3 separate regions of the Homo sapiens genome follow, and regions 2 and 3 are each linked to region 1. Evidence: fine-mapped QTL for protein levels in blood plasma. A gene starts in region 1. Each other region holds a variant in brackets. All regions are shown on one strand. Distances are from middle to middle.

What was found. A credible set is the group of variants that fine-mapping cannot tell apart. PIP is the posterior inclusion probability: the model's chance that the variant is causal. Protein levels are from antibody-based Olink assays in UK Biobank. Linkage for the fine-mapping came from a reference panel and not from the study's own genotypes, which makes the PIPs less certain.
Region 2: its variant is the best candidate, but not a certain one, in a credible set for the plasma level of the TIMM10 protein (UK Biobank, PIP 0.73).
Region 3: its variant is the best candidate, but not a certain one, in a credible set for the plasma level of the TIMM10 protein (UK Biobank, PIP 0.51).

Annotation. Positions count from the first base shown.
Region 1 is chr11:57,525,321-57,533,499 of GRCh38, reverse strand. It overlaps TIMM10 (translocase of inner mitochondrial membrane 10), which reads left to right and starts at 2,746. Exons shown (of 3, transcript NM_012456.3): 1 at 2,746-2,842; 2 at 3,266-3,381; 3 at 4,582-5,036. The coding sequence starts at 3,311. The coding sequence ends at 4,783. It also overlaps the pseudogene RN7SL605P. RefSeq lists enhancers at 2,567-2,746, 7,201-7,798.
Region 2 is chr11:57,973,637-57,981,815 of GRCh38, reverse strand. No RefSeq gene overlaps it. Among named protein-coding and RNA genes, the nearest start is that of OR9Q1, 46 kb to the left of the region's middle. RefSeq lists a silencer at 2,745-3,039. The variant C/T (reference allele first, on the strand shown) is at 4,915.
Region 3 is chr11:57,537,336-57,545,514 of GRCh38, reverse strand. SMTNL1 (smoothelin like 1) reads right to left here and starts at 7,920. Exons shown (of 8, transcript NM_001105565.3): 1 at 7,873-7,920; 2 at 2,141-2,874; 3 at 1,759-1,891; 4 at 1,595-1,646. The coding sequence starts at 2,872. RefSeq lists an enhancer at 1,222-2,112. The variant G/A (reference allele first, on the strand shown) is at 4,555.

The sequences.
Region 1 (8,179 bases):
AACTTCTGCCTCCCGCCTCCCGGGTTCAAGCGATTCTCCTGTCTCGCCCTCCTGAGTAGCTGGGACTATAGGCGCATGCCACCACACCCGGCTGATTTTTTTTATTTTAGTAGAGACGGGGTTTCACCATGTTAACCAGGATGGTCTCGATCTCCTGACCTCGTGATCCACCCGCCTCGGCCTCCCAAAGTGTTGGGATTACAGGTGTGAGCCACCGCGCCTGGCTTTTTTTTTTTTTTTGAGACGGAGTCTCACTCTGTCGCCTGGGCTGGAGTGCAGTGGCACGATCTCGGCTCACTGCAACCTCCACCTCCCGGGTTCAAACGATTCTCCTGCCTCAGGCTCCTGAGTAGCTGGGGTTACAGGTGCCCGCCACTACCCCCAGCTAATTTTTTGTATTTTTAGTAGAGACGGAGTTTCACCAACAAGGCTGGTCTCGAACTCCTACCTTGTGATTCGCTCGCCTGGGCCTCCCACAGTGCTGGGATTACAGGCGTGAGCCACCGCACCCTGCCAGTTCTATGACATCTTATCACCTGTGTAGATTCTTGTAACCACCACCACAATCAGGATACAGAATTATCCATCAACACAAAGATCTCTCTTGTGCTACCCTTTACAGGTACACTTCTATCTCCCCATCAACCCTAACACTAGACAATCAGAAATCTCTTCTCCATCTCTATAATTTTGTGATTTTGAGAATGTTACTTAAATGAAATCATACAGTATGCAACCTTTCATAAGGCCCAGTAGATATTGCAAGATTCCTCTTGTAAGAAACCATCTCCTTTTCCCACGCAGTTTCTTAACTTTCCATAATGTTTCTTTTTTGCGGGGAGTGGGGGGTCGGAGTTTCACTCTTGTTGCCCAGGCTGGAGTGCAATGGTGCGATCTTGGCTCACTGCAACCTCTGCCTCCCGGGTTCAAGTGTTTCTCCTGCCTTAGCCTCCTGCTTAGCCTCTTGAGTAGCTGGGATTACAAGCACCCGTCACCACACCGGGCTACTTTTTTGTATTTTTAGTAGAGATGGGGTTTCACCAAGTTGGCCAGGCTGGTCTCGAACTCCTGACCTCAGGTGATCCACCCACCTCAGCCTCCCAAAGTGCTGGGATTACAGGCGTGAGCCACTGCACCCGGCCAATGTTGACTATATTTTCAAAGGCAAAAACCAAGGCAAGATATGTCCATCTGTACAAGAGTATCATAGCAGCATTATTGCATAATAGGCAAAAACTGGAAACAATCCAAACATCCACCAACGGGAGAATGGATAGATGAATTGTGGCATACTCATACAATCAAACACTAGACAGCAATAAAACAGAAGGAATAACAGATGCACACAACAATATGGAGGAAATCTTACAGGTACATTGAGCTAAAGAAGTCAGGCACAAAATAGAAAATAATGTATAATTCCATTTACACGAAGTTCAAGAACAAGGAAAACTAATTGATGGTGATAGAGGTCAGAATAGTGGTTAACTTCGAGAGGGGGTATTGATGGGGAAGGAACACAAGATAACTTTTTGGGGTGCAGGAAGTATTTTATATCTTGATCTGGATGGCGGTTATACAAATGTACATATATAGATACATATATATTTAATTAAGCTTAACATTCGTGTATTTTATGCACTTTATGAATGTTATACCCCAATCTTTAAAAATCAGGGCACAAGTTTGGCAAAGATGAGTCTTCAAAGCAGTAGAAAGGTCAATTGTTTAAAATTAGGATGGTCTTGGACAATTAGGGAAGCTTATGATGACCACACAGAAAATGTCTAGCCCACCTTTTCCAATGGGCAATGTGCCCTTGCGTCATTAATTTACATCTTGTAAATTTATTTTACCAGGAAATTGTGTGACAAATCAAGGGACTGAGTATTGTTTCCTTGTTTCCTTCTTTTTAGTGGGGAATGAGTGAATGGTGCAGTTTGAAGAACACATTAAGTCTTGAAAGTTGGAAAGTTCACCAGTACCCTTCTTTCCCTCACCCAAGATTAGCCCTGGTGGCAGCCGAAATTGCTTTTATTATCTCTTTGTGGCTGAGGACCTCTAACTGTTGAAGAAAACATATTTTACACGTCTTGTCTTTCTGCGAACAGGAAGCCTATCTCGCTTATCTTTGCAACCCCAGACGGGGCTTAGTGTGACCTACACACAGCAGTAATCGCACAACGTCCCGTGGAGCACTGCTTCTCAAATTTGGCTGTACATACGAATCACCTGGGGAATTTTAAATTGTATTGCTGCCTGAGGAATTTTAAACTGTACTCCCAGAGATTCTGATTTAATTGAAATGAGGTGAGTCCTGGGCACTGGGATGTTTAAAAACGTTCCAGGTGATTTTAACGCGAAACAAAAACAGAACCGCTGTTTGGGGGCGTTCTTCCTTCTCCACGCCTGATTTGCGCACAGGAGTCGGCTGTCTGGAACGGGGGTGAGGTTCACAGGTGTCTGTCGCCACGCCTCTTCCTACAGAACCAATAAACTGAAGCCGCTCGGTGACATCCCAAAGGACTTGAATTCTGATCGGGCTGCAGACGCTCTGCACCCCGCCCAAGCTTCTATGGTACTTTGGTGTCCTCTCTAGCACTGGCAAGTCGCCTTCCTCTTCGCCCGGCGCCAGCCGCTCCCTCTCTATGATCGCCGAGTTCCCGGCGCCGTCTCGTTGGTATTTAATTCCGGAAGCGAGTTTGAATCAAAGAAGAGGCGGGACTTTCCTCCCGGAAGTAACCCACGTGCTTCCGCTGGAGCCTCTCGGGAGGCGGGTAACGTTATAGTATTTGTCAGAAGTTGGGGTCTCCGTGGGCATTGTGATCCGTCCCAGGCAGTGGTAAGTGACACATGACCTCTGAATTCAATGTGGCCCTGATGATGGCGTCGCCATTTCAGAGGTGTAGCCTTTGGGCTGGGTCCCGGTCGCCTCTGTTCAGCGTATGATCCCATTCCCAGGGCCCTGGAGGTTCAGGTTCGTGGGTTAGAGAGTTCTCCTCCGGTCCTCGATCTCCTGAATAGAGGTGACCTCCAGGAACTGGGGCATCAGAGATCCGGGGCTCGATTTCCAGGCTCGCCATAGACGTCCTGTGCGACCTTGGGCTAGGCCTCAGTTTCCACATCCGTGAAATGGGGTGGTTAAGCTCACTGAGGTTAGTGGCCCGTGGTGGTCTGGCGCCCTGTGAGTCCTCTGTATCCTCTAGCCCCAGGGGTAGGAGAGTGAACGGCGGCGGTGGGTGCTGATGGTGATGTCTGCTCCCAGGATTAGGAGGCCAGAAGGAGATCCCTTCCACGGTGCTAGGCTGAGATGGATCCTCTCAGGGCCCAACAGCTGGCTGCGGAGCTGGAGGTGGAGATGATGGCCGATATGTACAACAGGTAAAGAGAACTATGTGCTACCCTGTCTTGGAAAATAAGTCTTGGTCACCCTTATCGAAGGTGAATGACTTATGACAAATTCCTTCCTGAATGTAGGGGAGCCTGAGGCCCATGCTTACCCTCCCCACACCCACCTTCAAGGTTGATCCTAATGTAGATGCAGTAAAGGGTCACTAGAATGAGTTGGGCATTTAGATGGGGATGGAACTGGCAATGCAGGAGCCAAGCAGGAAGAGAAACTCCAATCCAGGCTCTGGTTAGGTTCCAAGAAAAGCTGAGTATTTGCCTCTTGACAAATAGCACATAGCCAGCCCATTTAGTAGTTAACATTTTAAAACCCTTTATTCTGTGTCAGGCACTTGTTAATCTTCAAAATAATCCAGTGGGTTAATTTTATTAGTCCCGTCTTAAAATGAGGAAATTGATGATTCTAGAGGTTAAGTAACTTCCTTAGGGTCGGCAGCTGGTCAGTAACAATGCCAGAACTAGCACCTCAGTCTGATTCTGCAACTAGTGCTCATAACCATTTGGCAAATTTGGGAACAAATCCTGGCTCCACCAATCACCAGCAGTATAATTGGACATGTTACTTGCACTGTTTGACAATTGGTTTCCTCATTATGAAGAAGACATAATGATACCTACCTCATAGGACATCATAAATATTAAATCTAAAAATATATGAAAGCCCTTAGCCTCAAGCCCAACACTTAGTGAAATGTCTGCTATTTTTATTGGCTTAAGCTCTCTTGATTGGTTGGTTTATCCTGAAGGCTATAAATTAGAAGGATTTTTAAGTGTAGACTGTGAGGTCAGATGACCTGGCTTCATAACCCAGCTCTGTGTGATCCTTAGAAAATTACTGAGCCTCTGTTTGCCTTAATTTCCTCATCTGTAAAATGGGGATACATGTCTCTTAGGGTTATTGTAAGCATTGCATAACAGAATGCAGGTAAAGCACTTAGCAGGATGCCTGGCATGTAGCCAGTCCTCAACAAATGGTTTCTACTTAGTTAGTCATATACATGGACTTAGACAAGTTTCCTACTTGCAAGGACCTTCCAGTGGTTGAGGTGTAAACTGAGGATTTACACTGCTTTCTTGGGGGAGGTGAAATCAATATAGCAGGGCTGGAATGGTCAAGGTTCCTGGGATGTCACAGGATGCTGCTGACATGACCTTGCCCCTCCCTCCCTCCAGAATGACCAGTGCCTGCCACCGGAAGTGTGTGCCTCCTCACTACAAGGAAGCAGAGCTCTCCAAGGGCGAGTCTGTGTGCCTGGACCGATGTGTCTCTAAGTACCTGGACATCCATGAGCGGATGGGCAAAAAGTTGACAGAGTTGTCTATGCAGGATGAAGAGCTGATGAAGAGGGTGCAGCAGAGCTCTGGGCCTGCATGAGGTCCCTGTCAGTATACACCCTGGGGTGTACCCCACCCCTTCCCACTTTAATAAACGTGCTCCCTGTTGGGTGTCATCTGTGAAGACTGCCAGGCCTAGGCTCTCTGTAGAGAGTCTTCAAGATCCCGGAGTGGTAGCGCTGTCTCCTGGTGAAGGAGTATTTGTCACACTGGAATGTGACTGTGTGTGTATGTATGTGTATATATATATATATATATATATATATATATATAAACAAGTTTGTTGACACCTACTATGTGCAAAGCAGTGTGCTTGGCATTTGAGAGTAAAGAAAACAGACACAGCCCCTACCAGCAGAGGGAGATTAATGAGTGTTTAAGAGTAAGACAGGCCGGGCAAGGTGGCTCATGCCTGTAATCTCAGCACTTTGGGAGGCTGAGGTGGGTGGATCACTTGAGGTCAGGAGTTCAAGACCAGCCTGGCCAACATGGCAAAACCCCGTCTCTACTAAAAATACAAAAATTAGCTGGGTGTAGTGGCGGGTGCCTGTAATCCCAGCTACTCAGGAGGCTGAGGCAGGAGAATCGCTTGAACCCAGGAGGCGGAGGTTGCATGAGCTGAGATTGTGCCACTGTCCTCCAGCCTGGGCAACAGAGTGAGACTCCATCTCAAAAAAAAGTAAGACAGCTTAGGTTTGCCTGCTGTCTGCTGCTTTTTGTGTGGCCCTGCACCTGTCACTTTTGTGTGCTTTAGCTTCCGCATCTGTAAAATAGGGTTAGCCCCCTGACTAATCCTGTTTTACAGATGAGCAAGCTGAGGATTTAAGAAGTAAGTTGCTTGCTGGAGCAAGCTTGCTGGAGGTCACACAAGCAGAACAATACCATGGAGGCCAGACCTGACTGCTGCGTTTGCTGTCTCCAGATGGGACTGTGGTTGACACCAGTGCCACTGTGACAGCAGTACCTTCAAAGTGGGCCTTCCTGGTAGAAGTGTCTGGGATGTAACTAGGTCATTGGAGTAAAGGAGACAGAATAGAGGCAGTGAGTTTGGGGCTTGTGAGTGCAGGTTCAAGCCAGACTGCTTAACTTTGAGTTTCTACTGAAATTTTCTAGCAGTGTGATCTTGAGTAAGGCTTTTTAACTGCTCTGTGCCTCAATTACCCCATCATAAAATGGCAGTAAGGTTACCCACCTCATTAGGTAGTTGCAAAAATTAAACGTGTTAATAACCAAAGCACTTAGGAGAGTGCCTAGCATACATTGAGTATCCAATAACATTAGCTTTTTTCATTGCTAAGTTTGGTGGGAGGTGAAGATACCGGATGTACTGGAAAACTTCAAAGCCATTACTAGTCTTTAGGGTAGAAAGAAAGAAAGTTCCTTTCCAGGTACTGAAGTGCAGATTTTGGTCAACAGGTGGCGCCGTCTGCTCATGGTCAGCACTGCTGTGGACAATTCCGCACATTTTATCATTTGCCTATTCTTTGCTGGCCTTGTTCTTGAAAGAGAGGACAGGTGAGGAAAATCGATATTGTGCATACCCTCAGGTTTAGCAAGAAACATCAAGAATTCTCTGTTAGCACATAGCCAGAACATCTAGAAGGGGTGGTAGGAGTGGGGATTAGAGGTTCCAGCTGGAGGCAATGGCACTTGCAAAGGCTTTGTTGAAGTGGCGTAAGTGTGGAGGTGGAGCATTCAGGAAAGGAGAGCTTCAGCTTCAGTGTGGCTGGAGTGCTGGGTGTGAAGAGAGGTGAAGATGAGGCTTGGAGGCTGGGCAGATTTTGCTCCAAAAGAGCTTGGTGAACTGTGATAAGGAGTTTGGATTTTCTCCTACTAAGGACAACAGCAAACTATTGAAGAGTTTAAATCGTTCAGTGACAATGACACGTTTGCGTTTTGGTGGCTCACTCGAGCTGCCAGCCAGGTAGACAGTGGCAGAAGATGGAAGATAAAGCACTAAAGGGTGATGAGGCAGGAAGCCAGTGAGGAGAGAAAGGGGACGATGTGAGTGACAGTAAATCATTTGTTGGGTTGCTATTGTGTGCTAAGCTCTGTGCTAAATTCTTCACGTGTATTATTTCAGCTAATCCATCTAACAACTCTGTAAGGCAGGTACAATCGTTCCCAGCTGAAGAAGCTGAGGCTCTCAAAAGCTAGTAACTTGCCTAAGTTCATGCAGCATGCAAGTTGTCCAGCCAGGATTCTAACTTAGACACCAGAGGCCACTTTTAACCACTGCTCTAGGACTGGGGGAAATGGTCCCTAGTGAGATATGTGTCGAGTTTCATATTTCATTCAACAATATTGTTGGCCTGCTACATGTGAAGAGCTGTGGAAAGCGCCCAAAGTGAGTTAGATCCCTATGAGCAAGTGGGATGGGGGTGGAGTGGACAGTAGGAGGGCTGGAACACACATAAAAGGGTATAAGAAATAACAATTAGGCCGGCCAGGGGTGGTGGCTCACGCTTTTAATCCCAGCACTTTGGGAGGCCGAGGAGGGTGGATCACTTGAGGCCAGGAGTTTGAGACCAGCCCGGCCAACATGGTAAAACCCCATCTCTACTAAAAATGCAAAAATTAGCTGGGCTGGTGGTGCACGCCTGTAATCCCAGCTACTTGGGAGGCTGAGGCACGAGAATCACTTGAACCCAGGAGGCAGAGGTTACAGTGAACTGAGATTGCACCACTCTACTCCAGCCTGGGAGACAGAGTGTGACCCTGTCTCAAAAAAAGAAAACAAAACAAGTAGGTACTTTCTGCCATAGGGAGGATTCATAAACTGCTAGTCCTCAGGTGCATTTTTGCTTATCAGTTTTAAAAATCAGAGAATGTCTCAAAGAATTAGGATGTCAGCTTCTTTTGAAAATTTGGGCCAGAAGCGGTGGCTCACGCCTGTAATCCCAGCACTTTGGGAGGCTGAGGTGGGTAGATCACCCGAGGTCAGGAGTTGGAGACCAGCCTGACCAACATGGCGAAACCCCGTATCTACTAAAAATACAAAAATTAGCTGGGCTGGTGGTGCATGCCTTTAGTTCCAGCTACTCAGGATGCTGAGGCATGAGAATCACTTGAACCCGGGAGGCAGGGGTTACAGTGAAATGAGATTGCACCACTGCACTCTAGCCTGGGAGACAGAGCAAGACCCTGCCTCGAAAAAAAGAAAAAGAAAATTTGGAAGATCTGACAACAGTTGACCTGCATTCCTGCTCGGCAACAGCCTGATGGTGGATGGGCAGAGGCTCAGTTGTCTGCCAAACCTCCCATCACTGATGTCTTCCCTCGCTGTCATCATCTGCTTGACATGTAGGCATTTGGTGTGTGCCTTCTGCTCTGGGTGCCCAGATGAATTGGATGCTATATGAGAAAACATTCTGTAAATGTCTTGTGGTAGGCAACCTCAAAGATCACTGGGGCCTCCAATGATCCCTCCTTCCTG
Region 2 (8,179 bases), 450 kb before region 1:
TTTTACTCTCTGGAAGCTTTACAGGATCTTCTTATTATACCCCGGAATCTGAAATTTCACAATCATGTGCCTTGAAATAATTCTGTTGTCATTTATTTACCCAGGTACCCAGTGAATGCTTGAATTCTGTCCAAATTTTCTGTCCTTCCTTTCTGGAATTCCCATTAGTTTGATGTTAAGATTCTGTGCTATATCTAATTTTCTTATGTTTTTTGTTATTATCTTTTTGTTATTATCTTTTTTGTTATTATCTTTCATCATTTTATTCTGTATCTTGAGGATATTTTCTCAATTTTATTTTGCAAATCTCCTATTGAATTCTTTAAAATTAATTCTTTAAAATGTCTTATTATACTATTAATGTTCCAAAGTATTTTCTGCTTTTTAATGTTTTTTTATAATACTCTTTTTTATTATGGATACAGTTGTTATTCATTCAATCAATATTTGGTGTGTTTGTTGTGGGATTTTTTGTTTTTCAGACAGGGTCTCACTCTGTCACCCCAGCTAGAGTACAGTGGCATGATCACAGGTCACTGCAGCCTCGGTCTCCTGGGCTCAAGTTACCCTCCCACCTCAGCCTCCCAAGTAGCTGGGACCATAAGCACAGAATACCATGCCCATCTAATTTTTTATTTTTTGTAGGGACAGGGTCTTACTATGTTGCCCAGGCTGGTCTAGAACTCCTGGGCTCAAACAGTCCTCCTGCATCAGCCTCCCAAAGTGCTGGGAATATGGGTGTGGGTCCCCACGCCAGGCTGATCAACAACGTTTATTGGAACTCCCCTTGTGCCAGTCATGAGTACTGGTGAGAGAAAAACGGACAAGACACAGTCTCTGGCCTCATAGAGTTTACATTCTGCTGAGGGTGGCAAAGAGTAAACAAAAAACTAAGAGATGTACTATATAATGTTAGGAAGTGATAGTGCTAACAAAAGAAATTAACAAGAAATGGAAATAGAAAATAATTGGGGGCAGTTACTCTGTTTTCTCCAAGTTGCTCCAAAGTCTGTTTATTGACTTTGACCTTATCTTTCATCCTAGTGGCTTTCTCCAAGAAAGTTTAGCTGTCCTTTCATATTTAAGACTGAGGCACAGTTCTGTCTGGGCAGGACTTTCTGGTTCTTAGGCATCAGCAAAGAGCAAGTGAGAGGGGCACTGGCCTTTGGTGGTGGGTAAAATGGGCAGCTCTCTTCTGGTTGGTGGTCTCCCCAGAGAGGACTTCTCCACACTTCTGCCTGGCAGCTATGAGCCCACCTGCCAGCATTCTGGGAGCCAAAGGTAAGTGAGCAAGCTAGAAAACCCTCTTTTAGGTTTCCATTAGTCCCCATGTTCAATCTGGCACCTGACAACTGTCCTCAACTGTGCCTGGTATGTACAAATCCAAAAGCTCTTGTGGTTCAACATTTCCCGAGAGACACTTGCCTCCAAAAATCTTTCGCTGTAGTGGGGTAAGGAATCTGGGATACAATCACTCTTTATTCAGACTTTCAAGCATCTTCCTGTTTTTAGCCCCAGCCTACCCCTGCCTCTAGAATAGCTTATGTCTCCAGCTCCTGAGTCTTTGGGGAGTTCTGCAGTGAGACTTAACTAATGTCTTGCTAGCTCATCCCTTCCCTTCTGTAGGGATTTAAGAGTTAGCTTTCTTCATCTCCCAGGTGCTCTGCTGTCCTTTTATGCTCCCTTTGTCCTTATAGATTTGTACCTTTTTTCCTTTTGCCAATATTTTAGTGGAGTCATGGAAGAAATCACATGTAAAATTATATGCTCAATCCCTCATGTTTGACCAGAAAAACTCCACTGTGGCAGCCACTCCTAATTGGTGCTGACAAAATAAAAAATAATAATTCTAAATCACTGTGATTGTTAATCTGAGTTTACTGCTGGGCAAAGCAGGGAAAATATGATCCAACACAGAGAAATTCAGTCCTGTGGGTTGGGGCCAAAAATAACTCAGAGGCAATTAGCCTAAGCCTTGCAGGTTTCATCATTCATAAACAGGCAGGCACCAAGCCTACCTTCTTGGGCTAAAGTTAGGGTTAGGGTTAGGGCTAAGACTAGGGCTAGGGCTAGAGTTAGGGTTAGAGATAAGGCTAATGTTAGGGCTAGGGCTAGGGTCATGGTTAGGATCAGAGTTAATCCTGAGTGTACATAAAGCCCAGGAACCCTGTGTAGACACTCTCGCCAACTAAAGACAAGAGCAAGATTTGTAAATGCAAAAGCCATAAAGTTCCCAAGAAGGTGAGGCTGTCTGATTTAAACAATGTACTATCTTCTTAGTTTCAGACTGACCTGTAATAAATCTCAGCTCAAGTCATTTGTTGAACTTTTATGTCTATTTTTGTTTTTTTCAAACTGTGTGGTCAACATCAGATTCATTAGATTGAATGCAAATAAGGCATCTGTCTGAGTCACAGACATGAAGCAGTCACAAGTTTACCACCAGGCTGTTTCTCTGCTGATTCTGATGAGTCTTCTGAGAAGCAGTTGCTCTAGTTTTCATTTCTATGGTCCTGATCTTGCAATCTCTCACATTCTCCATGCTCAAGGTCTTGCCTAGAGATAAGTCTGCAAGCCCATGTCCAAGACCTATCAAAAATTGTCTTTATTGCTACTAGATATCCATCCCCACTTCTTCCTTACTTACAGAAAAGCAATATTTTTGAGTATCTGGCAGCAATATTCCAAGCTGAAAATTATATGTTCCAGCCTCCCTTACAGGTGTCCCTGAGATCTGGCCAGCGAAGCCCAAGTGAAAGTTGCCTGTGGATTTTCTAGGACTGTTTTATTTTCCTAACATGAAACTTATCTCTTCTTTTGCATATTCTTCTTTTTCTGCTGCCTGGCGCTCCACTCAGCAAATGGTCAGTTAATGAGTACCTGCCATTCTTCCAAGCTATGGCGATATAGCAGTAAGCAAATATCCTTGCCCTTGTTGTGTGTACATTCTAGTGGACCATCTTGCAGTAAGAAGGAAAGCAAATAGAATCACAATCAGCCTCAGCTTTGACATTTCAAAGCACCTGAACCAAAGATGGGAACTTACTTGAGAAAAATAAAATCTCATTTAGTCATATTTTCAGTTACTTGCAACTGGACACAATTACTAAACATACTACTGCCTTTTTTGTTGGTGGGTGGGGGGTCGGGGGGACGGAGTCTTGCTCTTTGTCACTCAGGCTGGAGAGCAGTTGCACGATCTCAGCTCACTGCAACCTCGGCCTCCCAGGTTCAAGCAATCCACCTGCCTCAGCCTCCTGAGTAGCTGGGATTACAGGCACCCACCACCATGCCCAGCTAATTTTTGTATTATTAGTAGAGATGGGGTTTCACCATGTTCGCCGGGCTGGTCTTGAGCTCCTTACCTTAAGCGATCCACCTGCCTCAGCCTCCCAAAGTGCTGGGAATACAGGTGTGAGCCACTGCACGCAGCTGCCTTTCTTTCTTTAACTACAGGTAAGTTCCTTTATAGTTAAGATATCTGGAAGACACCTTGATGGAATAAAATGGTTTCTCAACCTCAACACTCTTGACATTTTGAACCAGATAATTCTTTGTTGTGGAGCTGTCCTAGGCACTGTAAGATGTTTGGCTGCATTCCTGACATCTACCAACCAGATGCCAGTAGCCGCATCCCCCTCCCAAGATATGACAATCAGAATGTCTCTAGACATTGTCAAGTGTTCCCTGAAAGCCAGATTTTCCCTGGTTGAGAACCACTCGCATATGGATGGTGGTGCTGGCAGAGCTAAGGCAAGCAACAAAAGCCAACCCAAACCCAGAGTATTTGGAAACAAAGCATTACTTCCTCCATCGTGGAAAGAATCCAATACAGCTAATCTACCTCTGGGGAGCTGGCTGCCCTTCCCCCCACCCTCCAGTTATCACAGCATTCCAAGAGCTCAGGGCCACTTGGCCACTGCTGCCAACAGTCCCTGCACTCCACCACAGCAGGTCAGACTTGGTGAGAGGAAAAGGGTTGTTGAGTACAGGCACAGCCTCCCTTCCTGCCACCACACTCACTTTGTGAGCACTGAGGTATCTGGGATACCCCAATTTTTGTGAGCATTGGGATATCTGGGAAAGGAGTCTAACATCTCACAGAGTGGGCCATCCATCCTACTTACGTAGTCACAAAGGCCCCCTCTGTATCAAGGCCTTGTGGCAAGCATTCATGTGGGCCACAAATAGCTCCTCACTTCACATTTACCTGAGAGGTCAGTTCACAGACACCTTCACAGGCCTCCTCAGCCATTTCCCAGTCTTGCTTCTTCCAAACCCTTAACCATCAGAGCGTGTCTTTGTCTATTTGGGCTGCTATAAAAACCAAATACCTGAGACTGAGGGGCTCATAACAACAGAAATTTATTTCTTCCAATTCTGGAGATTGGGAAGTTCAAGATCAGGTGCCAGCACGGTCAGGTTCTGGTGAGGGCCTGCCCCTGGATTGCAGACTGCCAGCTTCTTGCTGTGTCCTCACATGGTGGAAGGGACAAGGCAGCTCTCTGGGGTCTCTTTTATTATAAGGGCATTAATCTCACTCATGAGGACTTCACCCTTGTGACCTAACTACCTCTAAAAGGCCCCACCTTCTAATACCACCACCTTGGGGGTTAGGATTTCAGCATGTGGATTTGCAGGAGACACAAATATTCAGACCAGAGTACAGCCCAATTGCAAGTCAGGGGTTATTTCCTTTTTTTTTTTTTTTTTTAAAAAAAAGAAAAAAGTTCTTTGCTGAAAGAGGTGACTTTCCTCCAAAATCCTAGCAAGCCAATTTGTCCCATGCAGCTTACAAAATTTGCTGGGTCTTAAGAGCCTAGCTGCAGAGCCAATCAACTTAAAAGCTTTTACCCCCTGGAGATGCTTTCCCCTGGCCCAGCTCTCATCAAACCTGGTGGCTTTTCAGATCAC[C/T]CAGTAAATAGGTCAAATAGGTGTTAAATGTTATTCATAGTGATTTACTAGGAACTACATCAGGATGAGTAGTGTGGTGTGTGTGAAAGTTAATTTTATTCAGCCTCTTAGGGCTAGCTGATTGGCATAAAGAATATTAGAAATAACTTTCACTAGAGAAATTAAAGTTTAAGACACGGTTTACTTCGAAACCACCAATGTGATGATTGATGCAGGTTAGGATTATCAATGGGTGCTAAATCAGTCTCAGAGTATCACCCCACAGGTCGCTTTTTAATAACAAAGAGAAAAAGATACCTAATGGAAATAAAATCTGGCAGACATCAACTTAATTATGTAAACAAATTAATACCACCAGTAATGGGGAAAAAATGACATTTTGTGTCTCCTACATGAGAAGAACACATTATCTGTGTAGAGTTCTTGCCAAAAATATCTAGCCTAAATCTAATCATAGGGAAAAATTCGAGAAGTTTAAATTATAGAGCATTATGCAAAAACACTGGTCTGGACTCTTCAGAACTTTCAGTATTCCAAAATAAAAGTTTTAAAAATCTAGATTAAAATTAAATTTAAAAACTAATGGACACGATAACTAAATGCAATGAATAATCCCTGATTGGACCTTAGATTCAAAATAAATAGATATATTATTTTATTATTAAAACAATTGGGAAAATTTGAATTTGAGTATAGACTGCATATTAAATTTCTTAAACATGATCATGTAATTGTGGTTATGTAAGAGAATGGCCTTCTTCTTAGCAGCTAGTATTTAAGGTGAAGTGTTTAAGGGTAAAGCATCATAATGTTCCAACTACTTTCAAGTAGTTTGGAAAAAGATACATAAGCATAAACTCACATGTTCATCAACAGATGAATGGATAAAGAAAACGTGGTATATGCATTAAAATGGAGTATTACGCAGCCTTTAAAAAGAAGGAAATCCCTGTCACATTCAACATGCATAAACCTTGAGGACATTATGCTAAGTTATATAAGCTAGTCACAAAAGCACAAATACAGCACTTTTCCACTCACATGAGATATCTAAAGTAGTCAAAATTATAAAAACAGAAAGTAAGAAAGTGGTTGCCAAGGACGGGGAGAGTGGAGAAGGAGAATTAGTTTGTTTCTGGCCATCAAGTTTCAGTTTTGCAAAATGAAAAAGTTCTAGAGATCTGTTGCACAACAATGTGAATATACTTCACACTATTGAACTGGACACAAAAATAGTTAAGATAGTAAATTTAATGTGATACGTTTATAACCACAATTAAAAATAAAATAAAAATTTAAAAATATAGACCCATATATGTTCATGACTTATGTATGTGTGTAGGTAAATATATGTATATATTATTTCTTAGAAAGAAAAGTAGGCAAAGCAAATGTGGGAAAATGTTAATAACTGTGAATCTGGAGAGAAGATATGTGGGTATTTTTATATTATCCTTTCCCTTTTTCTAAAAAAGGAAGTGGGGGCTAATCTGTGATTCACTTAGAATTGTGTAACAAGGCTCATGGCCCTTCCATGAATAACGTATTTTTTTAAATTAAGGCAAGCCCAACAGTTTACATGGGGAGAGGATGCTTGGGCTAAAGTCACTTGGGCCCATTTCTCTACTTTTTGGAGGAGTTTGCCCATCCTGCTGTAAGCGGGTATCTGCTTTAGAACGAGATTTTCATTACAGTGCTGGTCAGCGTGGCTGACCACACAAGCAGAGCCCCCTTCCAAACTCCAGACCAGCTGTTCATGCCTGCGAGCCAAGAAAGGACTGTACAGTTGCTGGCATTTGGTCTGAGACTTGCTCTCATACCAACACTCCGGCAGCAGCAAGCTTGTGTGGGTGGAGATGCATAAGGCCTGCACTCGCACCTGCTTCTAACACCACTCACCGAAAATAATCCGACACTCACGTCATGTCGTTTGGCAACAACAGGGCACCAACTGTGGAATGTGCGCCTCTCCAACCCAAACAGGCATACAGTGATGTAATGCGGGGTGAAGGAAGCAAGTTGCGGAACAGTATTTCGGAATGATACCATATGTGTTAGAAAGCAAAAAGGGAGGAGTGGAGAAAGAAAAGGAGGCAGGGGAGAAAAGAAGGGAGAGGGAGAGGAAAAGAAAGGTAGAAAAGAAAAGCAAAAGGAAGGAAAGAAAAAAAAACAAAAACAAAACCCCTGTCTGTGGATGTCTGTATGTATATATATCATATATATGTTATATGTAATATATAATATATGTAATAGATATGTTATATATGTAACATATATGTTATATATGATATATATACACACACATTTAAAATCTGAAAAAACATATATCAAACTATTAACAGTGGTTATTCTTAGAGTGTTTGAAGGTAAGGATAAGATTTTCACTATTTTACTTCTTTTTCTTGTATATTGTATAAATTTTCTGAATTAGTCCATCTTAATTTGAAATTTTCTTTTAATTTAATTTTTAAATTTTCTTTTAATTAAGAAAAATTAAAGCAAAGGACTATTTAGGGGAGGGATCTTTCTCCTTGAAGGAAAGGGGCTGCTGCTGTCACTTTGAAGTAAATAAAGACAAAGTGCAGTCTAGATCAGAGGCCCATACACTGTGGTTAGTGGACCACACATGGCCTGCCCCTATTTTTATAAACAAATTTGCATTGGAACATAGCAGCCTCCCTCATGCTATCAACAACGAAGTTCTATAGTTGTGACAAGACTAGATAGCCTGCAAAGTCAAAAATGTGTATTATCTGGCCCTTTACAAAAGACATTAGCCAATCCCAGTTCTAGATTTATATTTACCTCTGAGATGGAGTTATCTATAAGAATACCAACTCCATTAGAACACCAACTCATAAATTCAAACTCTCAGAGGAAGGAGTAAAAGGTAAAGGCTAAATTTATTTTGTAAACTCTAAAAGTTGAAATCACAAATGCGCCTCATTATAAAGACCTTTTTTTTTTTTTTTTTTTTTGAGACAGTCTTGCTCTGTCACTCCAGCTGGAATGCGGAGGCATGATCTCGGCTCACTGCAGCCTCCACCTCCCGGGTTCAAGCCATTCTCCTGCCTCAGCCTCCCAAGTGGCTGGGACTACAGGCACCCGCCACCATGCCTGGCTAATTTTTGTATTTTTAGTAGAGATGAGGTTTTACCATGTTTGTCAGGCTTGTCTTGAACTCCTGACCTCAGGTGATCCACCCACCTCGGCCTCCCAAAGTGCTGGGATTACAGGCATGAGCCACTGCGCCCAGCCAAGACCT
Region 3 (8,179 bases), 12 kb before region 1:
TCCTGCCTCAGCCTCCTGAGTAGCTGGGATTACAGGTGCCCGCCACCACACCCAGCTAATTTTTGTATTATTAGTAGAGATGGGATTGCACCATGTTGGCCAGGCTGGTCTCAAACACCTGACCTCAAGTGATCTACCCGCCTCAGCCTCCCAAAGTGCTGGGATTATAGGTGTGAGCCACTGCGCTTGGCATGGCTTTGCCTCTTATTTGCTGTGTGATCTTGGGACTGTCACATTGTTTGAGCCTTAGCTTCCTCATCTGTAAAATGAGGACAAGAATACCTACCTGCCCTATGTAAGAAGGTGAATGTAAAGCATCCAGCTGTGCCTGCTGGGTGACTATTCACTGGTTATCTTTCCCTAAGAAAGGGACAAGGAGGCCGGGCACAGTGGCTCATGCCTGTAATCCCAGCACTTTGGGAGGCCAAGGTGGGTGGATCACCTGAGGTCAGGAGTTCAAAACCAGCCTGGCCAACATGGTGAAACCCTGCCTCTAGTAAAAATACAAAAATTAGCCAGGCGTGGTGGCGCGCACATATAATCCCAGCTACTTGGAAGGCTGAGGCAGGAGAATCGCTTGAACCCGGGAGGCAGAGGTTGCAGTGACCTGAGATCGCACTATTGCACTCCAGCCTGGGCGACAGATCAAGACTCCATCTCAAAAAAAAAAAAAAAATGGGGGGAGGACAAGGAGGCAGATTTCAGCTCCAGATAATCCTTCTAATGACTGAAGTTGTGCAATGGCAAGCATAAGCCTCTTATTTTATCCAGCACCTGCCAGGGACCAGGCACTGGGCTAAAGTGCTTTGCACTTGTTACTCATTGAAGCCTGAGAATAATCCTACGAGGTAGATACAATTGCTATGCCCACTTCACAGATGAGAAGAGGTTCAGTGACATGGCCAAGGTCACACAGCTGGTACATGGCAGAACCATTGTCCCAACTCGGGCTTTCTGATCATGCTTTTTGGATGACTGGCACCATGGAAACATGTTCAGCTGAAAGATAAGGAGCTCCTGTGAAGTGTCAGGGATGCCACAGGGCAGACTTCAGCCATGGCATGGGAAGTGGACCAGGTATCCTTCGTGCTCCTTTCTGCCTCTGGTTTTTTGTTGTTGCTGTTGTTGTTGTTTTGAGAGGGAGTCTTGCTCTGTCGCCCAGGCTGCAGTGCAATGGCGCAATCTCGGCTCACTGCAACCTCCACCTCCTGGGTTCAAGTAATTATCCTGCCTCAGCCTCCCGAGTAGATGGGATTACAGGTGCCCACCACCACGCTCAGCTAATTTTTGTATTTTTGGTAGAGACAGGGTTTCACCATGTTGGCCAGGCTGGTCTCGAACTCATGACCTCAGGTAATCCACCCACCTCAGCCTCCAAGAGTGCCGGGATTACAGGCGTGAGCCACTGCAGCCGACCATGCCTCTGGCTTCTTTTGTTTCCTGGGCTCTGCCCTGGGATAGGAAGCTGAATGCCAGGAATCCTCGAATATCTTGAAATCAGGTGCTGGGGGAACCCAGACTGAGTTGATGGTGGACGCTGAGGGAAGCAGGAGGTAGGGGGAATTGGAGCTGGAGCCCCAGAGTTTGACATTACCTGGCTGAAGGACTGGTCTGTCCGGAAGCTACACAGTCTGGACCCAGCCCATCTGGAGGAAAGTGAAAGGAGGGAGGGAAGCTGGGGCTATCCATGGCATGCTTCTTGCGCCCCTCCCCCAGGTGGCCTCTGCAGCATCCCATGGGCTCTGGGCTCTCACTCACCTGTGCTGAGGTTGTGCCCCTCCCCAGTGGGGCTCTCAGGCCACTCCTCTGGGGAGCTGGGAATCACCCCTGCCCCTCCCTCTGGCTCTTTTTCCACGTCCTGCTCCTGCTCTTCGCTGGGACTGCCTGGCTCCTGGAATGAGCATGATCTGCGTGAGCTCATGGTCACACAGCACCTGCCCTGGCTTCATGAGGACTTCAGAAAGTTCTGAAAGGCAGCCTGGGACTACGGTGCTGCACTCCTTGTCCCCCCTCCCCCACCCTGGGCTCTGGAAATCATCAGGAGGAAAACTGGACTTTCCCAACTGACTGAAGCAGAGGGGGCTTGCTTCCAGAAGCAGGAGACGACAGAGCCTCCTTGCTCCTTTCCTGCCTCACTCACTGCCTCCTCTGCATCCTCCGCCTCCTCTTTTGCATCAGCCTCCTCTTTTGCACCATGTTTGGCCTCCTCTTTCCCATCGGGCTCCTTGGGTTCAGCCTTAGCCTCATCCTCCACAACAGCCTTCTGCGATTCAGCCTTGGCCTCTTCATCAGTAGCCTTCTCCTTGGGTTCAGTGCTGCACTCTTTCCTCTGGCCTGTCTCCTCCTGAGAGGCTGTCTTGGCGTCCTCCTCCTCAACTGTTGCCTTAGGTTCAGGCTTGTCTCTGTCATTGGCATCGGCTTTCTGCCCAGATTCAGGTTTGGCCTCTTTCTCCTCAGCCTTCTGCTTCTCAGAGGCCAGCGTGCTCTCCTTTTCCTCAGCCTCTTTGGGTTCAGATTTGGTCTCTTCTTTCCTGCCAGTCATCTCCTGAGAACCCACAGTGGTCTCTTCCTTCTCACCATCCTCCTTTTTAAGTTCAGCCTCAGCATCCTCTTTCCCACCAGCCTCCCTCTGAGATTCCACTTTGACCTCATCTAATCCATTTGCTTCCCCCTGGAGTTCTGCTGACATGCCGTCCTCGGCTGGTGCCTTTTCCTGCTTTCCTGACTCAGTGGGAGGCCCCTCATTGATGGCCTTTCCAGCTGTGCCTTTGGTCTCCTCTGCAGGGGCTCCACCTCCTGACATCTCAGGGTTGTCCGCAGCTGGGGAGACGGTGGTCCCATCCTCAGAGAGCTTCCCTTCCTTCTGCTCCATCTCTGGAAAGAGAAGACAAGCAGACCTGGTCATGCCCCAGCCCAGCATGAGGTGAAGACCCCACCCTCAGAGAGCTCTGGCCTGGGAGTCAGGAAGTCCGTGGTTCAGTCTTGGCTCCTACTTGGACATGGGGCCCAATCACGAAGGAGAGAGAAGTGCTTCCCCAAAGCTGGGATGGTTGGGCTACATTGACATGACGTTGGATGGTGTTCACCTGATGCCCCTCGGTAGGTTCTGGCTTTGGCTTTAAAGAACATTGAATCACATAATGCCTTTTCAGTCATGTTGCCTCTTTTTGATTAAGCCACTGAGGTGGTCACAATTTTATTGTATTATTTATTTTTTGAGACAAGGTCTCGCTCTGTCATCCAGGCTGGAGTGCAGGAGCACAATCTCAGGTCACTGCAACCTCTGCCTCCTGGGGTCAGGTGATCCTCCAACCTCAGCCTCCTGAGTAGCTGGGACTACAGGTGCTTACCACCACACCTGGCTAATTTTTGTGTGTGTGTGTGTGTGTGTGTGTGTGTGTTTTTTTTTTGTAGAGATGGGGTTTTGCCATGTTGCCCAGGCTGGTCTCAAACTCCTGAGCTCAAGCAATCCACCTGCCTCGGCCTCCCAAGGTTCTGGGATTGCAGGCATGAGCAGTGCCTGGTCACAGTTTTATACTGGCATCCTAGAACACCTATGGAACAATTGCTACTCTCCCCTGAGAGCCTAGGCAAGCAGAAGTATCTAGATAGAATTGAATAACACCATTTTGTTTCCATTGTATTTATTTTTACAGTTACTTTCTATCTCTGGTAAGTGATACTGAGTTTCCATTTCCAACAGTGATACAGTGTCTTTTAAAAATACATTTACTGAACTTAAAAATAAGTTGATTCAAAGGAAGTAATTCAGGAAACTGGAATATAGGCAGTGCAGATGTAGCAAAATTATAGAGGTGGTGTATAAAAATGGCTGAAATTTGGGAACCCCAGGGCCAACTGGTCTCTGGAGCTTTGCCAGCTCTACCAGCCTGTGGTTTTTGGAAAAGGTGGGCCTGGGCAAGGAAGCGTTTCCTTGAGTGAAGAATGGAGCCGTACTCTCCCTGGCCTCTGCTGAGCAATCTGACTCTCCAACTGCCCCCGGGAGCATGGGGGTAGATTATGACATCTTAACTCGGAGTTTCCTATTTAAGTACTGTATATACTGGAGGATCTACAAAAACAGGTGTGTGGGGGCCCCGGGTTAGCTCCTTCATGCTCCTGCCCTTTTTGGGGGGTGTAGTTACAAAGAAAACAATCCCCAAATAGGGCTCAGGGCATGACTCAGGCAGTAAGAAAAGTGGACACTCCTGTCACACACTAAAAATACCCCCTGCCCTTGGCAGTACCATCTTTCTCAGTGATAGTACCGAGGGCACCTGGGTAATTGGGCAGAGGACAGGAGGCAAGAAGACAGGGATAGGGCTTTTTTCCCACCACCCACTGGGGTCTTACCCAGAGTCCTGGGGTTCCTGAATTCGATGCCCTCACTATTTCCTAAAAGTAGGCTGGGATTTGTAAAGATGCTCACACTGTCCTCTGATTCCTGCTAGAGCCCCTTCCTGGTTCAGCGGCTCCAGCAATGTCTTAAAGTAAGAGGGAAGATGACGCCGGGCATGGTGGATCACACCTGTAATCCCAGCACTTTGGGAGCCC[G/A]TAGCGGGCAGATCACAAGGTCAGGAGTTCAAGACCAGCCTGGCCAATATGGTGAAACCCCATCTCTACTACAAATACAAAAATTAGCTGGGTGTGGTGGCAGACGCCTGTAATCCCAGCTACTTGGGAGGCTGAGGCAGGAGAATTGCTTGAACCCGGGAGGTGGAGGTTGCAGTGAGCCGAGATCGCGTCACTGCACTCCAGCCTGGGCAACAAAGCGAGACTCCGTCTCAAAAAAAAAAAAAGAGGGAAGATGAGCCAGGGGGATGGACGCACATCAGCAGAGATGCCGGGAGGTGTGAAGTTGTGGAGCTGGCTGTGACCTGCATCTTCCAGTCCCCACTGAGACCTGAGCAAGTAGTTTTCCCTCTCTGGGCCTCAGTTTCAACTGACAATGATGGGGTTCATCTGGATCAGGTTCTCCACATTGTGTTCTGTGGAAAACTAGGGTCTCCCGTGACATGGATAGGGTTTTCTGTGGGGTTGGGAGAAAGGATATTCTCTGGCTAAGGTTGCTCCACAAAAAAGCCTACTCTTTACCCTCTTAGAGATATACAGTTTCAGCCAGGCGCAGTGGCTCATGCCTATAATCTTAGCATTTTGGGAAGCCTAGGTGGGAGGATTACTTCGGCCCAAGAGTTCAAGACCAGCCTAGGCAACATATTAAATTCTGTCTCTATAGTAAGGAAAATAAAATTAAACAAAACAAAACAAAACAAAAACAGATATATAACTTCATTAGCATTTAAATAGATTTTAGAAACCAGATAGTCAAGAAACCTAAACCTTGCTTAAACTTCATTTAACTCACTTTTTTCCAAACCTATTTGACCATGACTTTTTTTTTTCCTCCCTTTGTTTTCTTTTCTTTTTGCTTTGATTTTCCCTGAGGAGCATCTACCACTCTCTCTAGCAGCAGAAGAAAGCATGGCAAATGCTGGTCTAACACAATCCCTTCCCCTCTTTCTCTCTGCTCTTGTTTGGAAGGTGACATGGACTAGCAGTGAAAATCATTGATTCTGGTGTCTTCCTGTGATGGGATCTCAGCTCCCATGGGTTACTAATTGTGTTAACCTTGAGCAAGCTATCCATCCTCTCTGTGTTTTGATTTCTGCAGACAACAATAGGTCCCATCCCATAGGGATGGTGGAGGATTAAGAAAGCCCATGCTTAGAAAATATCTGGAGCCAGACGTGGCGGCACATGCCTGTGGTCCCAGCCACTCAAGAGGCTGAGGCAGGAGGATCACCTGAGGCCAGGAGGTCAAGCAGTGCACTATAATGATGCCTATGAATAGCCACTACACTCCAGCCTGGGCAACAAAGTGAGACCTCAGCTCTTAAAAAAACAAAACAAAACAGGATTCAGAGGCATGCTTGGCATGAATGAGTACTCAGCACCCATCAGCTCGTATGATGTGGGTTGGCTGTGCCCAGCCCTGTGCCAGGGCAAGGTCCTGACCCAGCCTTGAGGGCATTTATCAGTGAGTCAAGGCAGAGAGAACTGAATGCCAGTAGGATGATAACAAGCCCTTTTTATACCTCAAAGTATGACACTATTTGGCTAAGACATAGCTGAGTGCTCCAGTCATCTTTTATTTTTAAGAGACAGGGTCTTACTCTGTTGCCCAGGCTGGAGTGCAGTGGCTCAATCATAGCTCACTGTGACCTCTACCTCCTGGACTCAACGGATCTTCCCACCTCAGCCTCCTGAGGAGCTGTGACCACAGATGTGCACCATCACACCTGGCTAATTTTTTGTTTTTTATTTTTTTTATAGAGATGGGGTCTCGCTATGTTTCCCAGGCTGGTCTCAAACTCTTGGCCTCAAGTGAACCTCCTGCCTCGGCCTCCTAAAGTGCTGAGTTTATAGGTATGAGCCACTGAGACTGGCCGCTCTAACCATCTTTCCTTCTGCCTACACGCTGCATACTTAGGGTGGTGGAGGGGAAGGGTAGGTGCACGCACACGGACACACACCTCGGCTATCCTGCGTGTTTATCACCTCAGCTTTCCACCCTCCAGGCTTGTCACAAATAGAAAAGGAGTGAAGATGCTCAGAATGCTGAGAAACCAGGACGCCACCACCCACCCCCAGCATTCACAGCCCTACAGCAGTTTACAGCTTATGCTGCGGAGGCCCTGCTTTCTCTTGGTCATTTCTTGCTCCGACCCTTCAGAATAGGTTATTGGCCCCATTAGGGAGCCAATGGGGATTTCAGGCTCAGGGAGTTGAAGTCCCTTGACTAAAGTTATAGGACAAGTGGCCTGGCTCTCTATCTAGAATCCAAGTATCCCAACTTCCACTCCAGAGCTCACATCAAATATATGCTCCCACTAGCTCCGCAGCCCAGTGTCCCTACAAAGGCCCTGGCCCAGAGTGGGGGCACCCCACCAGTTGGGAAGGGCAGTCAGATTCAGCCGAGGAGTTCCTCCCTCTTTCTTCTAGGTGCACAGTAGGCCCTTCATGAAAGTTTCTCTGCCCCCACCTTCCTTTCTTATTCTCTCCTTTCCTTCCTCCTTCCTTCCCCAGGAAGTCTCCAAACCATCCCTGTTTTGTGTCCAAAGCAGCACTGCAGATATCTCCCCTCCCTCTCTCTTCCTGTTTCTTCTGGCAGACCAGGAGGAAAGGGACCCAGGAGCCCAAGATCCAAACTCCCAGTAGTATAAACACTGGATGTTCTGTGGTGCGTCTGCCACCCACTGCAGCCTCATCTGTCATCTGGTTGTCCTAAGGCTTCCACCTTCCCCACTCAGCCAGGGGCCCTCCCTTGGAGAGGCCGACCTCAATTGCTTAGACTAGGGGTATCCAATCTTTTGGCTTCCTTGAGCCACACTGGTAGAAGTAGAAGTGTCTTGGGCCACATGTAAAATACGTTAACACTAACGATAGTGGATGAGCTAAAACAAAAATTGCAAAAAAAAAAAAAATCTCATAATGTTTTAAGAAAGTTTATGAATTCATGTTGGGCTACATTCAAAGCCATCCTGGGCCACAGGTAGCCTGTGGGCTGGACAGGCTTGGCTTAGACAGTCTACCCCCCAACCCAGTTTGACTCTTGAGACTCCCAAGGTCCCCTCCCCTGCTCTGTGGCCTCCTCGTGGATGGCCACTTGCAGTCTGCTCTGTAGGTGCTCTGGTGCAGGGCTGAGACCCCAGGCATCTAAAGAGAGTAGACATTGTGGTGGAGAGAATTAGAAAGGAGCCTGGATTTCTCCAAATGGGGGGCCCTCCTGGGAGGCTCTGGCCCTTGGACAGTGGGAGTGAGAATTGGCAGATGGGGAGGGACCCTTAGAAAGGGTGCCAGGGCTTCTCCTACCTGTGGGGCTTCTGCCTGTGGCTTGGGAGCTGTCTCTTTGCTCCAGCTGAGTGGCCTCACTCCCAGGCTGCCTTTAAGCCCCAGTGGCCTCTAGCCCCCAGCTCTTTGGTCCCGCCTCCCCCCTTCCTCTCCCTCTTCCACCCCACCCCCACTTCAAGAGTCTTGGGCTGCCTGAAGAGCATTGTTTACTGGCCTGTTGGTACAACACTTTACCCTAGACTGGGAGGCTCGGATTTCCCGTGGAAGATCTGACAGGTGGCACCTTTCAATCACGGCACGTCCCTTCCGCCCTGAGCCTGGCAGCATC